Homo sapiens: one gene and its partners. The protein of the gene in region 2 interacts with the protein of the main gene of each other region in a pairwise test. Each region holds a gene or a part of one and is shown on either strand. Other genes may lie near its edges. The genes, in order: TRIM55, CKM and ASB9.

What was found.
Region 1: the proteins of CKM (region 2) and TRIM55 interact in a two-hybrid assay, tested with the Homo sapiens proteins (one study listed by BioGRID).
Region 3: the proteins of CKM (region 2) and ASB9 interact in binary tests that used the Homo sapiens proteins (3 or more experiments, as listed by UniProt).

What each region holds. Positions count from the first base shown.
Region 1 is NC_000008.11:66,151,019-66,158,128, forward strand, and holds part of TRIM55 (tripartite motif-containing protein 55), read left to right. Parts: intron 1-1,358; coding exon 1,359-1,609; intron 1,610-3,028; coding exon 3,029-3,316; intron 3,317-4,604; coding exon of another isoform or gene 4,605-4,692; intron 4,693-7,110. UniProt on the Homo sapiens protein: E3 ubiquitin ligase that plays an important role in regulating cardiac development and contractility, muscle growth, metabolism, and fiber-type differentiation.
Region 2 is NC_000019.10:45,312,866-45,319,975, forward strand, and holds part of CKM (creatine kinase M-type), read right to left. Parts: intron 6,867-7,110; 5' UTR 6,849-6,866; coding exon 6,656-6,848; intron 5,115-6,655; coding exon 4,960-5,114; intron 2,733-4,959; coding exon 2,600-2,732; intron 1-2,599. UniProt on the Homo sapiens protein: Reversibly catalyzes the transfer of phosphate between ATP and various phosphogens (e.g. creatine phosphate).
Region 3 is NC_000023.11:15,266,997-15,273,948, forward strand, and holds the start of ASB9 (ankyrin repeat and SOCS box protein 9), read right to left. Parts: upstream 3,088-6,952; 5' UTR 2,879-3,087; coding exon 2,785-2,878; intron 1-2,784. UniProt on the Homo sapiens protein: Substrate-recognition component of a cullin-5-RING E3 ubiquitin-protein ligase complex (ECS complex, also named CRL5 complex), which mediates the ubiquitination and subsequent proteasomal degradation of target proteins.

The DNA of each region.
Region 1 (7,110 bases), on a different chromosome or scaffold from region 2:
TCATAATTGATAATGATGATATCTCAACTTCAATCCTATGCACAGTGTTAGCCAAAATAATGTAAAGTGTCAGCAGGAGCAAGGTTAAAGATGAGATAAAAACAATACATAGGAGGCATGTGGGTTAGATATTGCAGCACATCAACTTAATCAAAATTTAGAGGACAAGAATAGTAACAACTCATAGAATAAGTCACAACCTGAACATAAACCTGGGTCTGTGTGACTAGTTATACTCCCTGAGCTATAACCACATTCCTACCTTTTGGCCCAGAAGTCCCATTTCTGAAATTTTATCCTGATTAAATAATTGAAAAGTGAAAAACAATCTTGGAGCTGACCAAAACTTTGATCACTTTGACTCATGCTAGCCCACCTAGATGATCACACCCCTCAGCTAGACCACTAGACCACTAGTAATGCTATGAGGCTGCACCAACATCCACAGACAAAATTTTAAAGGCAAATCTTTAGGATGTATCTTTTTAAAAAAATCGCTTAATATTGCCTGTCCTTAATGTCGCCTGAGGGAATATTAAGATCAGTGGGTCAGGAAAAGAGTCACGGCATTCCAGCACTTTGGGAGGCCAAGGCGGGTGGATCACTTAAGGCCAGGAGTTTGAGACCAGCCTGGCCAACATGGTGAAACCCCATCTCTACTAAAAATACAAAAAAATTAGCCGGGCGTGGTGGCGTACGCCTGTAATCCCAGCTACTCCAGAGGCAGAGGCAGGAGAATCACTTGAACCCAGGAAGCGGAGGTTCCAGTGAGCTGAGATTGCACCACTGCACTCCAGCCTGGGTGACAGAGTGAGACTCTGTCTCAAAAAATAATAAATAAATAAATAAATAAATAAATAAATAAATAAATAAATAAAAGAGTCGTGACATTAATTATGGCAAAAGTCAGTATTCACTGAACAACAGAGGTAGAAAGCTAAAATGACAAAAGGGCTTTGTATGTTTTCTGAGACAGGGAAGACAGTTGCACTTCCATTTAATCTGACAGAGATAAATAAGTGACAATCCCAGGCCTCCAGGAGCTTGCAGATGTGGCAGACTGTAATAAAAATGTGGACGGGCTCTGGAAGGTGAAGGGCATTATGCACAGCAGAGGTGAAGACTTTGTACTGGGGAGGAGAACAAGGAGGATAGGGATGGTTCCTTCACATTTGTCCAGTCCACATTCCACTAGAAGCACAAAGCCCTGGCACGGCACACTTGGACCATTGTCAAGTGTCTGTCAGAGAAAAACTCCCCAGCCTTGACCTTAACTAGGGCTATAAGCACTGGCCATTAACTGTGTCCATGGCTGCAGAGATAGTTATAACAATTTACAAGATACCTTACCTTACCAGAAGATGAAGATGAAGAAGAAGAAGAAGGCGGAGAAGGAGAAAAAGAAGGAGAAGGAGAAGTGGGAGGAGAAGCAGTAGAAGTGGAAGAGGTAGAAAATGTTCAAACAGAGTTTCCAGGAGAAGATGAAAACCCAGAAAAAGCTTCAGAGCTCTCTCAGGTGGAGCTGCAGGCTGCCCCTGGGGCACTTCCAGTTTCCTCTCCAGAGCCACCTCCAGCCCTGCCACCTGCTGCGGATGCCCCTGTGACACAGGTAACCCCTCCTGAGTCTCTTTCTACAGGGCACATGGGCGTGTCTCCTTATGGAATAGCCTAAACAATTTACCCTATTCTGCCTTAAGAAAAAGATAACTATATGCCAGACATTCGTATATGGTAGACGAAAGATTTCAGGACAGTCCTCATGTCGGGGAGAAAAGTCCTCTAGGTGATTCAACAGGTTCTTTGTTGTTATTGTTAGTTAACAAAATTTAATACAACTTTCCCACCAGTAATGCCCTCAAATCAAAGGCAATCTTTGTCTGGAAATTGTGTGTGTGTGTGTGTGTGTGTGTGTGTGTGTGTGTGTGTGTCCATGTCTGTGTGTCATGTTAATTCATAGAGAGCTGATATCATGGGGACTGGGTCTGCTCTTTGTTACTTAGTGAATGTATATGTAGGGTATAGGATGAGAAATAAATAGCATACAGAGTAAGAAATAAAAGTGATTATACTTTCAGAACTTTGAATTTTCTGTAGATAATTGAGGGGGTAAATAGAGAAACTACACTAGTTTATGTTCCTGTTGCTTACCCTGAAATACAACTTATGTATTTTTCCTTCAGTGAGCAAACAATGAAGCCTGGTTTTCTATGGATTTGTCATTTGATGAGATTGTGTGTTGACAGAATTGTTTAAAACATATCTTAAGAAATAAGCTCACCCCAGATGCTGCACCTAATTGGTTGACCTCATGTTTCTAATACGTCACCGTCCAGTTTTCAAGCCTTTGTGCAGACTCCATGATACTTCAGCAGACAGGATCCCAACCTTTTGAGTTTGCAGGCAGTGCAGACTCATCAGAGAGGAGTCCTGCTTCTGCAACTGCTTTTGAAGTGGATTGAAACAAAACTCCAGAGGGGGATCTCAGAGATGGAACTGTATTTCTATGCTCTGTCTCCACAGGAAACCAGGCTAAAATGCCATTTATAGTCTAGAATTTTTAAATTCTGAGCATTTCAGTTGTATTAAAATTGAAAGAGGTATAGTAACTAAGTGAGGGTTGGATTTGATCAATAAGATTAATTTTTGTTTTTTATAATGAGGTTTTTGGGACTCACGTATAAAGCCAACAAATTATTCTAGTCAATAGTTTGACCCTTTTCCCATATCTGATATTTTATAACCAACATTCACTGAGGTTTCTGCTCTCTGCCTGCCTGGGCTCCCAGTGAGTGAAAGACAAGCTCAGAAAAGAAGAGGGCACCCATCCAGATGCTGGACAGAGGGGCACTGTAGTCACCATTCTGCCCTTAGCGCTTCTGGAGGGTGGGATGAACTAAAACGGCCACCAAGGCACTGCATGCAGGGAGCGCACAGTGTTCAAACCCAAAGGGAACTAAAATCAACTGCTTTTTCTTCTTCTTCTTCTTTTTTTTTTTCTTTACTTTTGAATTTATCTGTCCTGATTAAGGGGGAGGTTGTACCCACTGGCTCTGAGCAGACCACAGAGTCTGAAACTCCAGTCCCTGCAGCAGCAGAAACTGCGGATCCCTTGTTTTACCCTAGTTGGTATAAAGGCCAAACCCGGAAAGCCACCACCAACCCACCTTGCACCCCAGGGAGCGAAGGTCTGGGGCAAATAGGGCCTCCAGGTTCTGAGGATTCGAATGTACGGAAGGCAGAAGTGGCAGCAGCCGCAGCGAGTGAGAGGGCAGCTGTGAGTGGTAAGGAAACTAGTGCACCTGCAGCTACTTCTCAGGTTAGTGATGATGCACTTGTGTCTATGCTTTCCCGCGCCCCCTAGGGTCCCACTGGAACAGGCCACAGCAAGAAGAAAAAGGGTTTTCAAAGGGGCAGAGAGAAACCTCAGCCAGGGGAAAAGTACAGAAACAATTCATCCCCCAATGTTGGCTTGTTTTGAGCTCTATATAAAAGAAAACATAAAACAAAACAAATTTGAGTTCACTCTCCTGGTGCATGGTGACCTCACACCTGGCTTCCCAGGGGAGGGGTGCAAGTGAGCCTGGCCCTTAGGCATGCTACTGAGCGCTGCTTCATCTGCAGTGACTGGCTGTGTCCCCAGTCCTCCTTACCAACGGCCACTTGCCCTTGCTCAGCCTTCCCTGTGTCCTCCTTGGGCTTCTAAAGACTAATCCCCTGCTTTTGTGTCATTCCCAGCAACCCCCAAGGAGCACACTTGAGTTTTAAGTCTGTTCTGGAGAATAACCTCTGATTCATGGATTCTTGGAGTGTGCTGGCTACAGCTAGACAGAGACAGTCTTGGCTTGATTAAACCTGTGCTTCCTAAGCATGTACTCCTGGGAGTGGAAAAGCACAGGTGCTCCTCCACAGAGATTTTTTTCAAGAGACTCTTTCTTTATATGATGAGTTTGAAGTCCATGTCTTCCCCCTAACACTTGGTTAGATGTTTGCATGTCTTGAAGAGTCCACAGAAGAAATCTTTTACAATTTCTTCACAAGGAAGAATGTTCATGGTGACTCCATACTCATGAGCATTCTTAAATGATGTGTAGGGTGTGAGTGTTGCCCAGGCAAGAAGCTGCCAGAAAGCACTCTCCAGTTCCATGCTCCTGGGTCATCAGGTGATTGATTATGAACCACAAACAACATGTTCTCAAAAATCAGACAATGACTTATTATTTTGATTGTATCTGCCCAAGAGACTTCAATTCCATGAGGTAGTAAAAGGAAATGATTTTGGAAAATTAAAAGTAACATGCTTTGGGGTTGGATGTTTATTTTCACAGATAAAATGACAAAAATAAATGTTTGGTGGGAAGAAATCTTATGAGGTGGTTTTTAGGTAAAAGATGCAGTAGACTGATTATTTCTAGAAAATGTGTGGCAATTCTTATACATGGTAGTAGAAGCTGTGTGCGGAGGGGCTGTTTTCTGAAAACAGTAGTGCACTACCCCATGAAGAGCACGTAGTAGGGCTCAAGCCAAAATGAAAAGTCCATTGAAATAATGTTGAAAATAATTATTTGTGATAATATCAGTGAAGCTTTCTTCTTGTTTTCTCACAGGAGTTAGTAATCTGCCTAGCGCTTTTGGCTTTTCTTATTCTTCACTACATCTGGAGTCAGATTCAGTGCTTGATTTTTACTTTAATGGGTAGGAAATATTTTCTTTTCCCTTGACTAACATCTCACATAGTTTCTTCCATAATGTTCCTCTTCTATAGGCCCAGAGATTAATTTCTCCCCAAATCTTGAGGCTCAGTCCTCCCAAAAGAACATTGTTCTCAGATTATACTGGAGGCCTCAAGCTCACACAATGCAATCGCCTCAAGACCTCTTTCTGAGGAGAATTGCTCCATTATCTATTCCTGCATGGAGGGGAACCTTGACTGAGAACAGTAACTCCATGGGCAATTATTCAGTAATCCAGGAGGAGCAAACCCTCCAGAATGGTCATTAGGGGAGGCCAGTTTCAAGTGTCCATAATGCGGTGAGGACTTACTGCTCGTAGAGAAAGGAGCGGCAAAGGACTCCTGCAGGAAAATGCAGGTTTCCATAGATTAAGTACAAGCATTTCATCTGCTTACACCAGAGATGCCCAGGAGGTGGCCAAGTGACTCCTCGTGGGATGATGTTCTAGGCAGTTCCTATGCAGGTGAGCAGGTGGGTTCTCTTTGAACCCTCAGACTCTACAGAGTTTCTCCTGGGAGAGGAGGTCCCTGAGAGAAAGATGCCCTGACTGAAGAAATATCTGGGGGATTGCAGCCACGTGAGACCTGAATGAATTAACAGCCAGAGGATCAATGTGCACTTACCAGCTATCAGGAATTAGAACCAAGAACTAAGCCATAAAGTCATCAAGCAGTCCATTTATATTATTTCCGAGTCACCGTTCTCATAGCCAAGCCTTTGCTTGATTGCTGTTATGAGGTTTGCTTGAGGACTGACATCATAATCCTTTAATACCCTTTTGAAAGTTCTCAGTTTAATTAATAATATTTAAAGATTCCAACTTCCATGTACTTTTGTGTAAATGACCCTGCTGGGCCTGAGACCCAACTCCTTGTTCCTGTAGCTCAAAGGCAGTTCAGGGTCAATGGTGCTGAAAAGCCTCGGCTATTTCTGGCTCACTGACTTTTCCCTGGGTTGACACTGACTCTTCTGGAAGCTCCCTTCATAGACTTTCTGCCTCATTAGCCATCTGCTCAGCAATGGCGGTGGCGTCTCCATTGGTCTCTGCCGTGTCTGGAACTGTGTGTGAGCAGGACCTGCCCACAATGTCCAATAGTCAGCTGGAAACCTGTGCACCCTAGAGTGTCCTGAGTGTCCTTACAGTCTGCTCAGCTGCCCAACTCCTTCAGACATTATCTGTGGTAAAAAGGAGTGGGAGGATGTATTGGCCATGGACTCAGAGGGGTGAATGGTGAGAGAGAAAACTCCATGCTTTATTGGAACCAGGACCTAATTGTGGATCTGAATAATTGTCTGAAGGGTTCTGTTTACATTCTGAGAATTCGGGTTTAGGGCTTTGTCACTACATATATGTCTTGTATTGCTTCTCTGAGGCTGCAGAGGGAGTGTCATGCTTCAAGGCTGTGATCCACTGAGCCCATGTCATGTATGCTGACATCCACGTGCCTGCCTAGGGAGAGGAGGGTGGGGCAGGTGGAGCAGGTGTGGGGAGGGCGTTGACATCCAGTATTGCAAAAAACCTTACTGTATAGTTCTTGGTGTTTGAGGAAGGGCCTTTCACATAGAGAAGGACACCTGTTCATGATGGAGTACTACTCTTTGATCCCAGAAATGGGATATGGGCAGGTTGATAGAGACCTCACTATAGTAGCAAATTCCCGGCCTCTGAGAATATTTTGCAGGTCTGATTCACCTTCACCACTTCAGAACCCAGTTTACCAGATTCATATTTGTCCAGTTCAAGGTTAGAGTGCTAGAATTTCACATTTCATCACTAGGCTTACCTTGAGTATTTAGGATGTGGTAAGAGTTCTCTTTGATTCAGTGGTGGTCTTATCTCTCTTTACTAGGTGGTCCCGTGTCAGAGTAATGCTGCCTTTAAAACTCAGAAGCATCTCAGGCTCACTTGCTGATCTGTAAACTACATTCAGCCCACAACAGCTGAACTGCAAACCTTTTAGAAGCAAATGCTCTATTTCCTGGTGCTTTCCTTACATCCATGTACACAGTGAAACATGCCCTCGATTTTACTGCCTGTGGTTTCTGGTGCTGAACAATTTCTGCTTTATCACATACCTTACCTTCTCTCTTCACCCAAGTACACAGGCAAAAAAAACCGGTCATGGCAAAAACCAAACATCAGCTTCCTCTACGAGTGATGGACAGGACCACTACTTTTTGTTAGATCAGAAGAGTGCTGTAGCTCCCCCATGGGCATTCTCTAAGAAAAAGCAAGGTTTGGATTCAGCCTTGTGGTGAATTTGAACTCATCAAAGGCCCCAGTTTCCTTGGGCTTCTACAGGATCTCTATTTGGTGGATTAACTCAGCAGCTGCTCTGGCTGATACTTGAGCTGGACACAGCAGCTGCCTCAGGGTAAG
Region 2 (7,110 bases):
AACACTTGAACCCAAGAGGTGGAGGTTGCAGTGAGCTGAGATTTTGCCACTGCACTCCAGCCTGGGTGACAGAGTGAGATTCTGTCTAAAAAAAAAAAAAAGAAAAAAAATTGTGTGTTTATTTGTATATTCATGTATAAAATATGTGTATAATGAATTTGTGTTTGTGCATATGTACAATAAATCTATAATATTTATATATCTTATACATATTCATATAATATACAGACATACCTCGTTTTATTGCATTTTGCAGATACTGTGTTTTTTACAAATTGGAGGTTTGTGGCAACTCTTTGTCCAGCAGGTCTATTGGAGCCATTTTTCCTACAGCATGTGCCACTTCGTGTCTCTGTGTCACATGTGGGTAATTCTCACAGTACTGCAGACTTTCTCATTATTACTATATCTGTCATGGCGATCCGTGATCAGTGATCTCTGATGTTACTGTTTTAATTTTGGGGGGTGCCACCGACCTTGCCCATATAAAAGGGTGAACTTAATGGATAAATGTGTGTGCTCGGACTGCCCCACTGACCAGCCATTCCCTCATCTCTCCCCATCTCCTTGAGCCTCCGTATTCCCTGAGACACATGATTTTGAAATCAGGCCAATTCAGTTCATAACCTTACAATGGCCTCGAGGTGTTCAAGTGAAAGGAAGAGTCAACATTTTTCACTTTAAATAAAAAGCTTCATAGGCCAGGTGCGGTGGCTCACGCCTGTAATCCTAGTGGTTTGGGAGGCTGAGGCAGGCAGATCACCTGAGATCAGGAGTTTGAGACCAGCCTGGCCAAGATGGCGAAACCCCGATTCTACTAAAAATACAAAAATTAGCCAGGCGTGGTGGCGCATGCCGGTGATCTCAGCTACTTGGGTGGCTGAGACACGAGAATTGCTTGAACCACGAGGTGGAGGTAACAGTAAGCCAAGATTGCACCACTGCACTCCAGCCTGGGCGACAAGAGTGTGGCTCCATCTCAAAAAAGAGATTCTTTTCAAACTATTACTGCTGGCCAGGCACTGTGGCTCACACCTGTAATGCCAGCACTTTGGGAGACCAACATGGGAGGATCACTTAAGCCCAGGAGTTGGAGGTTATGGTAAGTCATGATTGCACCACTGCATTCCAGCTGGGCAACAGAACAAGACCCTGTCTTGAAAAGAGAGAGAGAAAGAGAAGGAAGGAAGGAAGGGAGGAAGGGAGGGAGGAAAGAAGGAAGGAAGGAAGGACGGAGAAGAAAAGGGAAGGGAAGGGAAGGAAGGGAGGGAGGGAAGGAAGGGAAGGAAGGGAGGAAGAAAAGAAAGGAAAGGAAGGAAGGAAGGAAGGAAGGAATTGCCGCAGCCATCTCAACCTTGAACGACAACCGCCCTGATCAGTCAGCAGCCCATCAACATCAAGGCAAGGCCCTACACAACAGAAAGGTTCCAACTTGCTGAGTCCTCAAATGATCACAACATTTTTAGCAGGATTTTAAAATTAAGGTATGTACTTTTTTTTTTCTAGACATAATGCTATTGTGCACTTAACAGACTACAGTATAGGATAAACATAACTTTTTTTTTTGAGATGGAGTCACACTCTGTCCCCCAGGCTGGAGTGCAGTGGCGTGATCTCAGCTCACTGCAACCTCTGCCTCCCAGGTTCAAGCGATTCTCCTGCCTCAGTCTCCCAAGTCGCTGGGATTACAGGTGTGTGCCACCAGACCCAGCTGATTTTTGTATTTTTAGTAGAGATGGGGTTTTACCATGTTGGCCAGGCTGGTCTCAAACTCCTGACCTCAAATGATCCACCTGCCTCAGCTTCCCAAAATGCTGGGATTACGGTGTGAGCCACTGTGCCTGGCCTCTTTTTATTTGTTTTTGAGGCAGGTTCTCACTCTGTCACCCTGGCTGGAGTGCAGTGGCACAATCACGATTCACTGCAGCCTCAACCTCCCGGGCTCAAGTGATCCTCCCACCTCAGTCTCCTGAGTAGCTGGGATGACAGGTGTGTGCCACCACTCCTGGCTCATTTTTGTCTTTTTTGTAGAGACAGGGTCTTGCTGTATTGCCCAGTCTGGTCTTGAACTCCTGGGCTCAAGCGACCCTCCCTCCTAGGCCTCCCGCACTGCTGTGGGAGCCACTGTGCCCGGCCTCAACTCCTCCTATCTGAGGTGGCTCCCCTCGGTCATTCTCCACCACACCCATGTCTTGGCTTCATGGCACTTTTGAATTATCTTGTTCATCTGTGGGTTTCTGTATTTCCTCTTGTCTCCCCACCAGCTGAACACTCTGTGAGAACAGTGAGGGACCCCTATCTCCCCACACAGGGCAAGAACCCCTGGAAATGTGTGCTGGATGAACGGATGGCAGGACGCTGGGGGCAGCCAGGTGTCTGCGTAGGTCTTCTCAGGGGCCGTCGGGTCTGGACAGCATCCCTGAATCTCCAACACAGCAGGTAATGCTGACAGCCCGCGCCATTCCCCAAGCCCCCACGATTTACCAAGCTCTTCCCCTACTTTGAAAAGCGGGGGCCCAAAGAGACCCGAGGACCTGCCCATGGAGGAACAGAGCCAGGGCTGGGTGACCCCAGCAGTGGACGGGGTAGGGGCGCTCACCTTCCACAGAGAGCTTCTCCACCGCCCGGCGCTCGCCACGGGAGCAGTGTGGGGGCAACGTGTAGCCCTTGATGCTGCGGCCAGTGCGGACGCGGCTGCTGAGCACGTAGTTAGGGTCCAGGTCGTCTCCACCCTGGAGAGCGGGTGGGAGATCAGGACCAGGCAGATCCTCCGCCCTCTCCAGCAAGCCCAGGTCTCCCCCAGATGCTCCCCTCAGTCTCCCTGTTGCTTCCTTTGCCTTCTGCATCCTCACTGATTGGGTGTGTGGAGCCTCTCCCCGCCACCCATACCTGGGCTCTGTCTCTCCCTTCTCTGTCTCTCTCCCCTCTCCTATCTCTGTTTTTCTTTATACCTCTCTCTCCCCATCTTCGTATATTTCTTTTCCTTTTTTTTCTTCGAGACAGGGTCTCTCTCTGTCGCCCAGGCTGGAGTGCAGTGGTGCCATCATAGCTCACTGCAACCTCAAACTCCTGGGCTCAAGCAATTCCCCTGCCTCAGCCTCCCAAGTAGCTGGGACTAACAGGTAGGTATATGCCACCATGTTCGGCTAACTTAAAATAAATTTTTTATAAATAGAGACAGGGGCTGGGCGCGGTGGCTCACACCTGTAATCCCAACACTTTGGGAAGCCGAGGTGAGCCAATCACCTGAGGTCAGGAGTTCGAAACCAGCTTGGCCAACATGGTGAAACCCCATTTCTACTAAAAATACAAAAATTAGCTGGGCGTGGTGGTGCGCGCCTGTAATCCCAGCTACTCAGGAGGCTGAGGCACGAGAATCACTTGAACCTGGGGATCAGGGGTTTCCGTGAGCTGAGATCGAGCCACTGCACTCCAACCTGGGTGACAGAGTGAGATTCTGTCTCAAAAAAAAAAAAAAAATAGAGACAGGGTGTCACTATGTTGCCCAGGCTGGTCTCAAACTCCTGGGCTCAAACAGTCCTCCTGCCTCAGCCTCCCAACGTGATGGGATTACAGGCATGAGCCACCATGCCTAGCTAAATTTTTAGGCTTTTTTTTTTCTTTTTTTTGGGCAGAGACGGGTTCTTGCTATGTTGCCCAAGCTGGTCGTGAACTCTCCTGGCTTCACGTGATCCTCACACCTCAGCCTCCATAAGTGCTGGGATTACAGGTATAGCCACTGCACCCAGCCTTTCTGCCCATTTCTGTTTCTCTTCCTGTCTCCCTTTCTCCCACTCTCCTTGTCTGTGTCTGACTGCAACTGCGTGTGTCTCTCTCTCCCTGTCTCTCCTGCCTTCTCTGATGCTCCCTTCTGTCTCCCTCTGTGTCTCTGCCTCTCCCCCCACCCTTTTTTTTTTAGGCAGAGTCTCGCTCTGTCACCCAGGCTGAATAGCTAGGATTATAGGTGAACACCAGCATGCCTAGCTAATTTTTGTATTTTTAATAGAGACTGGGTTTCACCGTGTTGGTCAGGCTGGTCTCGAACTCCTGACCTTATGATCCGCCCACCTCAGCCTCCCAAAGTGTTGGGATTACAAGCGTGAGCCACTGTGCCCGGCTATGCCTCTTCCTTTTCTACATGCTTTTGTGCCTTTCTTCTCCCTCTCCCTCTCCTTTGTCTGTCTGTCTCCTTGGTTGTCTGTGTCTCCTTGGCTGTCTCTGTGTCTCTCTGTCCCTCTCTCTTTCCTTTTTTTATTTTCTGAGATAGAATCTTGCTCTGTCACCCAGGCTGGAGTGCAGTGGCATGATCTCAGCTCACTGCAGCCTCCATCTCCTGGGTTCAAGAGATTTTCCTGCCTCCACCTCCTGAGTAGCTGGGATTACAGGCACGCGCCACCATGCCCAGCTAATTTATTTTATTTATTTATTTATTTATTTTTTGAGACGAGTTTCGCCCTTGTTGCCCAGGCTGGAGTGCAATGGCACGATCTCTGCTCACCACAACCTCTGCCTTCCAGGTTCAAGCGATTCTCCTGCCTCAGCCTCCCACGTAGCTGGGATTACAGGCATGTGCCACCACACCCAGCTAATTCTGTATTTTTAGTAGAGACGGGGTTTCACCATGTTGGTCAGGCTGGTCTCAAACTCTCAATCTAAGGTGATCTGCCCGCCTTGGCCTCCCAAAGTGCTGGGATTACAGGCGTGAGCCACCGCCGTGCCCAGCCCTTTTTTTTTTTTTTAAAGACAGAGTTTTGCCATGTTGGCCAGGCTGGTCTTGAACTCCTGACCTCAAGTGATACGCTCGCCTCAGCCTCCCAATGTCCCTCTCTCTTTCCATCTCTCTGCTTCTCCACACCTCTGTGTCTCTCTCTGTCTCTGTATTTCTCTGTCTCCCCCCATTTCTCCTGTGATCTCTCTCCTCCTCACCCCTCGGCCCTCCCCTCCTGCGCAGACACCGACCTTGAGGTTTTCATGGTTGAGGTCAGTCTTGTGCTTGTCAGTGGGTTTGTAGCCCCCGTGGCGATCCGAGATGATGGGGTCAAAGAGTTCCTTGAAAACTTCGTAGGACTCCTCATCACCAGCCACGCAGCCCACGGTCATGATGAAGGGGTGACCTGGAGGGGTGGGGGTGAGGTCAGAGCTGCTTGTCCCCAGCAAACAGGGCGTGGGCTTGTGGGCTCAGTGGAGCCTGTGTGGACATGTGTGTCGGGATGGGGGCGGGTACATTCAATACCTCTGGGTGGGAATTGAGAATCATAAGGGTTGGGCACAGTGGCTCATGCCTGCAATCCCAGCACTTTGGGAGGGTGAGGCGGGTGAATCTCTTGAGGTCAGGAGTGTGAGACCAGCCTGGCCAACAGGGTGAAACCCCATCTCTGCTAAAAATACAAAAATTAGCTGGGTGTGGGGCACACACCTGTAATCCCAGCTACTCAGGAGGCTGAGGCATGAGAATTGCTTGAACCAAGGGAGTGGAGGTTGCAGTGAGCCAAGATCACACCACTGCACTCCAGCCTGGGTGACAGAGCAAGACTCTGTCTCCAAAGGAAAAAAAAAAAAAGAGAGAACACTGAGGACTGGTGGGAACTGGGAGGGAAGGCTGGGAGAGGTCAAGGTGGCTGGGAGGGGTCAAGGTGGGAGAGAAGAAAGAGTGCTGGGGGCGGGGTCAAAGGAGAAAGGGGAGCTTCAGAGGGTACATGGTGCTAAAAGCATCAGCACCTCGGAAACATTAGCACCCAAAGTCATGACATCTTAGCCTGAAATGTTAGGATCTCAGGCTACCACCGTACCACAGAGGGTCAGGAGGGTAAGAGACTTGAAAGACCCTCTTGTTTCCCAGTGGAAAAACAGGGGCCAGGAGAGAGGGGCTTCTCCCCGGCATCACACAGTGAGCTGGATGTGAGGGGCACTAGAGCCTCCCCTCCACTCCCAGCTCTCTTCGCCTTGCAATGTCCTTTGAGAAACAACCATAACATTAATAACATCCCCTGTCAGATTCTTTTTTTTTTTTTTTGAGACAGGGTCTCACTCTGTGGCTGGAGTACAGTGGCGCGATCTCGGCTTACTGCAACCTGCACCTCCCAGGCTCAAGCGATCCTCCCACCGCAGCCTCCTGAGTAGCTTGGACCACAAGCCCTCATCACCACACTTGGCTAATTTTTTTGTATTTTTTGTAGAGACAGGGTCTTGCTATGTTGCTCAGGCTGGTCTCAAACTCCTGGCCTCAAGTGATCCTCCCACCTGGGCCTCCCAAAGTGCTGGGATTACAGGCATGAGCCACTGCACCTGGCCCCCCTGTCAGAGCTTGAGCACTCACTTGGTGCCAGGTGCCACTCTAAGCACTGCACAGCCATTGACTTGTGTTTTCACAACGTGGGCGCCCATTTTTCAGATGAGGAGACTGAGGTTCAGGAGGTGAACCGACCTCCTTGGGGATCTCACATTATTCTCGTGCATGTTTATTGCGTGGTTTGCTGAGTACCTCGCACTGTCCCAAGCCTTTATGTATATTAATGCATTGATTCCCACAACAGCCCCATTTTACAGATGAGAAAACTGAGGCCCCCCCCCCTTCAAGGGTGGTGGGATTGGGGCATGGCCGGCAGCCTCCAGAGCCCCCATGTAGCCCCTTCAGTGCTCCACTGGGGAGGCTCACCTGGGTTGTCCACTCCTGTCTGGATGACATCGTCTACAGTGAAGCCAGATGGAGTCTCCTTGTCCCGCAGCTTCTTGTAGAGTTCAAGGGTCAGTACCTTGGCCATGTGGTTGTTATGTTTGCTGAGGTCGGGGTACTCCTCCTCAGGCTTGTAATTCAGCTTGAACTTGTTGTGGGTGTTACCGAATGGCATGGTGGCGGTGTAGGAGACCTGATGGGCAGGGCAGGAGGGGAAGATTGAAGATTAGCTGGCATCTTTTTTCTTCTTCTTCTTCTTTTTTTTTTTTTGAGACGGAGTCTCGCTCTGTCACCCAGGCTGGAGTGCAGTGGCACGATCTCGGCTCACTGCAAGCTCCACCTCCTGGGTTCACACCATTCTCCCGCCTCAGCCTCCCGAGTAGCTGGGAATACAGGCGCCCGCCACCACGCCGGCTCATTTTTTGTATTTTTAGTAG
Region 3 (6,952 bases), on a different chromosome or scaffold from region 2:
CCATGTGGAAACAAAAATAAATACAATACTTAGCTATAAAATAACCGTGCAGAAGTCAACCAAATTACCGATTCTTTCCCATAATGATTGGTTTGCTGTTTTAAAAATATATTTATCGGCCGGGCACAGTGGCTCACACCTGTAATCCTAGCACTTTGGGAGGCCGAGGCGGGCAGACTTCCCTGAGCTCAGGAGTTGGAGACCAGCCTGGGGCAACATGGTGAAACCCCGTCTCTACTAAAATACAAAAAAAAAACACCCCAAAAAATTAGCCAGGCGTGTGCCTGTAGTCCCACCTAGTCCCTGCCTCTCCCTCCTGAGGCAGAATTGCTTGAACCCAGGAGGCCGAGGTTGCAGTGAGCCGAGATGGTGCCACTGCACTCCAGCCTGGTAACAGAGCGAGACTCCATCTAAAAAAAAAATATATATATATATATAATTATATATATAATTCCTTGTAAAAAGTGGCCGGGCGTGGTGGCTCACGCCTGTAATCCCAGCACTTTGGGAGGCCAAGGCGGGCGGATCACGAGGTCAGGAGATTGAGACCATCCTGGCTAACATGGTGAAACCCCGTCTCTACTAAAAATACAAAAATCAGCTGGGTGTGGTGGCGGACGCCTGTAATCCCAGCTACTCAGGAGGCTGAGGCAGGAAAGTCGCTTGAACACGGGAAGGTGGAGTTTGCAGTGAGCTGAGATTGCTCCACTGCATTCCAGCCTGGGTGACAGAGTGAAACTCCACTTCAAAAAAAACAAAAAAAAAAAAAAAAAAAGAAATTCTTTGTGAAAAGTGATTTTTGATGCCACTCTTGCTTTCCTAGTTCTCCAAACTCATGCTCAATACATCTGCTGATTAATCCAGTTCTGCCTTTGTGGATCTAAATCCCACTCACCATTGAGTACTCTGCTCATTTTATAAGTGAAATTGGATAAATGAATGAATGAATGAGCAGGCTAGTCTACTCAGTCAAAGGGAAGACGTTTTGTGTTTTATTTCTTCCATTTTTACCTTTTTGGTACCTGTATAGTAGATTAATAAACCCTGACTGACGGCCGGGCGTGGTGGCTCACACCTGTAATCCCAGCACTTTGGGAGGCCCAGGCGGGCAGATCACCTGAGGTCAGGAGTTCTAGACCAGCCTGGCCAACGTGGTGAAACCCCGTCTCTACTAAAAATACAAAAATTAGCCGGGTGTGGTGGCGGGCGCTTATAATCCCAGCTACTCGGGAGGCTGAGGCAGGAGAATCTCTTGAACCCGGGAGGCAGAGGTTGCAGTGAGCGGAGATCTCGCCATTGCACTCCAGCCCAGGCGACAGAATGAGACTCCGTCTCAAAAAAACAAAACAAAACAAAACACCCTGACTTCAGGGTCCCTGTTTATTGCCCCTTTGATCAACAGGTGCTGTGGACAGTATACCAGGTATATATTTTTTTCTTTTTTCTTTGATACGGAGTCTCACTCTGTCGCCAGGCTGGAGTGCTGTGGCGAGATCTAGGTGCACTGCAACCTCCGCCTCCCGGGTTCAAGTGATTCTCCTGCCTCAGCCTCCCGAGTAGCTGGGATTACAGGCACGTGCCATCACACCCAGCTAATTTTTGTATTTTAGGTAGCGACGGAATTTCATCATGTTGGCCAGGATGGTATCCTGACATCGTGATCTGCCCGCCTCGGCCTCCGAAAGTACTGGGATTACAGGCGTAAACCACCGTGCCCCGCCTATATATACAGGCCTGAACCCGGGAGGCGGAGGTTGCAGTGAGTCGAGATCGCGCCACTGCACTCCAGCCTGGGCCACAGAGCAAGACTCCGTCTCAAAAAGAAAAAAAAATTAATAAATAATAAATACAGCAATTCAGCAGGGCTGCTGCAACACCAGCTTTCCCAGCTCTGGGTGCTGGGGCTTGTCTCCGTCACAAGCCCCCAAGGATCTCAACAGGGTGAACAACAGTTGCAGAAAGTGAGCTGTTGCCTTCACCCTCACCCTGCTGCTCCCTTTGCTCTCCGAAAGTTACGAACTTTGAGTTTCCTTCCCGATAAACTCCAAGGTTTCCTCACTGATTGGTCTCAGTTTGGGAAAGGACGTGACATCAGCAAGTTTGCAGACTTGGGGCTGGAGAGTTAACCAGTATATTACTAACCAATATACTATTATTTATAAGAACCTGTGTGCAAATGCCTAAACCCATTTTTCAGAATCCTTTCAGCCAACAGGCACCTGCTGAATGCTCACCGAAGTGTGTATTTGTGGGATTCTGTACATTAGCACAGACACCACTTGACAGATGAGAACAATACCTGTAAGATGATTCTCCAATGTTTTAAGTAAAACAAAGTCTCTTTTGTCTCTTTTGAAAGTGACTCAATCAGTGCTCAATGTTTGAACATCTTTATAAACCCTGCCCCACCTAAATGCCAAACACCTAAGACTTACAAATTAAAAAGTTTTAGCATTAAAAATTTTCCTATTTATAAGTAACTTTCAAACCTCCAATTTAATAAATAATGCATTTGACCCACAAAGAATGATTCCTGGGAGCTGAAATTTTCACTGGAGAATAATTTGTGACAATTGAATTTGTCTTGTCTGTAGGATTCTGCAGAAAGAAGTATACACATTTTTGAACAGCTGTGTAAAGAATATATACCAGTGAGCTGTGGACATCTGCCCAGTAACAGCCCCATGGACACCTCACACAGAGCCACTGAAACTGCCCAACCCTCCTCTCCTAAGCACATTAGCCAACCTCCCCAGGGCTGATTCCACTGCCCCTATGACTCACCGCCCATCAATGGGTTTGAAAGAAGCCTGATGCCAGGAAAGTCCCTTGGCCCCGCGGGCTTGCTCCCATCCATGCCCCCTTGTTTGCCATCCATGATGCTCTCTCCTAAGCGAGCAAGCTCTGCGCTCCACTTCAGTTGCTCAGCAAAGTCCAAACTCCATGCTCCCCCTGCTCCTGAAAAATTCCAGTTCTGTGGCTGGCTGAGCTGCACACGTTCTGGTCAAATGGTCTGCAGCAAAGCACAGAGCAGGCAGGGTAATCTGAGTGCTACCTGTGATCAGAGAGAGGCATGCGCTCGTGTACACACACACACACACACACACACACACACGTTTTACCTAACTGGCTGGAGGCCCGCCAGAGGCCACAAGAACCCTCCAGCCCTAAGTCTGCGAAGTTGCTGATGTCACGTCCTTTCCCAAACTGAGACCAATCAGTGAGGAAGCCTTGGAGTTTATCAGGAAGGAAACTCAGTTTGTAACTTTTGAGAGTGAAGGGAGCAGGGTGGGGGTGAAGGAAACAGCTCACTTTCTGCAACTGTTGTTCACCCTGCTGAGATCCGTTTGTTACATGGTAGCTTGTTATGGAGACAAGCCCGAGCACCCAGAGCTGAGAAAGCTGGTTTTGCAGCAGCCCTGCTGAATTGCTTGCACAGTAACATGCACAGCACGCCCTGGCCATCTGTACATGTGCTTTCAATTGTGCTGGGAGTTTCTTATGGGAAATGTGTCTATATGTTACAAAAAATGTACCTTTGGAAAGAACCATTTGTTCCTTTCAGCTGCAAGAATTTCACTAAATGTCCTACCTCACCCCTCCTCCACTCATTTTAACTTCTAAATAAATAATGAACGGTTGCAATTGGAAAAATGGATTGCTAGGTGGCCTGAGATGTGGAAGAGACCTGCTATCTTTTCATTGTGAATTACTAAAATTTATTTTGTTAACGTTTTGCTGTTTTTGCTTATACAAAACATTAGGGGCCGGGCGCGGTGGCTCATGCCTGTAATCCCGGCACTTTGGGAGGCCAAGGCGGGCGGATCACGAGGTCAGGAGTTTGAGACCAGCCTGACTAACATAGTGAAACCCCGTCTCTACTAAAAATACAAAAAAATTAGCTGGGCCTGGTGGCAGGCGCCTGTAATCCCAGCTACTCGGGATGCTGAGGCAGGAGAATCGCTTGAACCCAGGAGGCAGAGGTTGCAGTGAGCCGAGATCATGCCACTGCACTCTAGCCCAGGCGACAGTGCGAGACTCCACCTCAAAAAAAAAAAAATTTGGATGTACTGTGTCCATGTCTTTTCAGATAAACCCAGTTGCCTCACACCCCTGGGTGCTACTTCAGGCTGACAGGCACCTCTAGACTCCCACCATTCCTCTCTTCCAGGTAGAAGAGGATTTTTCATCCCCATGGGGGAAGGCTCTGAGTTAAGTCTCAAGCATAGACTGGCTGTGAAGTGATTGCAGATTTGTCTTAATGCCAAAGATGAGGCCTAGATGTTTTAGATTTACGGAGTCTCAGTTAAAACATTTGGTGGCTGTTATTAACAGTTTGAGGGGTGTAATTCACGTTTTTAAAGGCATTTATATGCATACACATGTATGCACATTTATCAATTTACATTTTCCACATAAATGTACCTATATTATTCTTTTTTTTTTGAGACAGGGTCTCACTTTGTCACCTGGACTCGAGTGCCATGGTGTCATATCGGCTCACTGCAACTTTCACCTCCTGAGCTCAAGCAATTCTCCTGCCTCAGCCTCCTGAGTACCTGGGATTACAGGAGCGCACCACTGTGCCCAGCTAATTTTAGTATTTTTAGTAGAAACAGGGTTTCACCATGTTGGCCAGGCTGGCCTCAAACTCCTGATCTCACGTGATCCCCCTTCCTTGGCCTCCCAAAGTGCTAGGATTACAGGCGTGAGCCACCGCACCCGGCCCCTATATTATTCTATTATTCTATGCTTTTTACACTTATTTTGTCTGTGAGAGCTTTCCATATCAGCTTTTATAGGTATGCTCCTGTCTTTATTCACTGTTGCATAGCATTCCATATTGTGCCAGAAGTATTTAATTATGCTCCTAATGATGCAAGCAGAATGTCATTATTTCTGTTAGTACTATGAAAGGACTAAAGTTCATATTTTTGTACATGTGGCTTTGTGCACATAGGCAAATATTTCTAGAGGAGAGATTCCTAAGAGTGGAAATGCTAAGTCAAAGGCATACTTATGCACATGTAATAAATTGTATAAAACTGAAGACACACACAGGAATGAGTACAAGTAAAACCGGGGAATTGAATAAGATCAGTAGATTGTATGAATGTTGATTTCCCAGTTACAATATTGTACTATAGTTTTGCAAAAAGTCACCATTGAGGGAAACTGGGCAAAGTGCACTGGAGATCTCTATGTGATTTCTTACAACTGCATGTGAATCTGTAATGATCTCAATACAAATTGCACTTTTTGAAAAGAGGCTGCTCATTTAAAATTTGGATAAACACTACTAAACTTCCCTCTATCTCTATTTGCAGAATTAACTGAGAAGGCCATAAGCATACAAATTCTTTACCACTCCATCAGGAAAGATCTGAAGAATGATACATTTGTTTGGCAGAGAGTGAGGAATTGATTCCCAACACAGACTGGATGAGGAGTTGAACAGAAGGGCACAATGGGGAAACTGGATACTATTTCCTTTCCTTCCCAGTAAAATCTTTGTACTACAGCTTCTTTATTTACTTTTAATTAAATTCCAAGTAGATAAGCCTTTTCCATATTCAAAATTAAGTTCCAAAATGACAATAAAGAAGATTTCCAGGTTGTTTCCCTAGTACCTGGGAGGGAATTAATTCATCAGCCTTTAATCTTCTCATTTTATTTATGATGTTGATCAACACCAGTGAATAGGAGGATTGGAGATGAATTTTTAAACTGTTTAACAACAGTTCTTTACAAGGGGAGTTCATGCATTTGTGGATTTGTATGAGGATAAAGTTGAATCACATGTGTATGAGCTTTGATTATGGAGAAATTGGTTGGCTTACCAACAGCCATAAGAGAAAAGCAATCTTACCAACTTCTAGTCAGCCTTGGTGTGTGTCAGTGTGTGTGTCTGGATGTTCAGTGAAATTGGCACAGGTTAGGTTAGAAAACAGAATGATCGTTGCCTGCAGCAGATGATAAGGCCACAGTCATTCCTCACCAGGAGCAGTGTTCACACTAGCCAGGGCCTCTGCCCCACCCCTCACTTAGATGTCCAAGGCACACCTCAGGTATGGTTTAGGAGACTCTTTCCTCCCCAATGTAGCCGGCTCAAGTCCAGCTGCTAAGAGGCTGAAAACTTAAGAAGCGAGAGGTATGGTGAAAGGAAATCAACTTTATCTAAATGCTGCTGAGAGATGAAGCCAGCTGGAATTCCTGGGTGGAGTGGGGACTTGGAGAACTTTTGTGTCTAGCTAAAGAATTGTAAAAGGACCAATCAGCACTCCATAAAAACCCACCAATAGCGCTCTGTGTCTAGCTAAAGGATTGTAAACGCACCAATCAGCACTCTGTAAAAACGCACCAATCAGTGCTCTGTGTCTAGCTAAAGGATTGTAAGCGCACCAATCAGTACTCTGTAAAAATGCACCAATCAGCACTCTGTGTCTAGCTAAAGGATTGTAAATGCACCAATCAGCACTTAAAAACACGCCAATCAGCGCTCTGTGTCCAAAGGATTGTAAATGCACCAATTAGCACTCTGTAAAAACGCACCAATCGGTGCTCTGTGTCTAGCTAAAGGATTGTAAATGCACCAATCAGCACTCTGTAAAATGGACCAATCAGCGCTCTGTAAAATGGACCAATCTGCAGGATGTGGGCGGGGACAAATAAGGGAATAAAAGCTGGCCACCCCCCCAGCCAGCAGCAGCAACCTGCTCGGGTCTCCTTCCATGCTGTGGAAGCTTTGTTCTTTCACTCTCCAGAATAAATCTTGCTGCTGCTCACTCTTTGGGTCTGTGCCACCTTTAAGAGCTGTAACACTCACCACAAAGGTCCATGGTTTCATTCTTGAAGTCAGCAAGACCAAGAACCCACTGGAAGGAACCAACTCCGGACACATTACCAGTTGGAGAATGGCCTGCCTTTGAAAGACCGTTCCAACTTTTTGGGC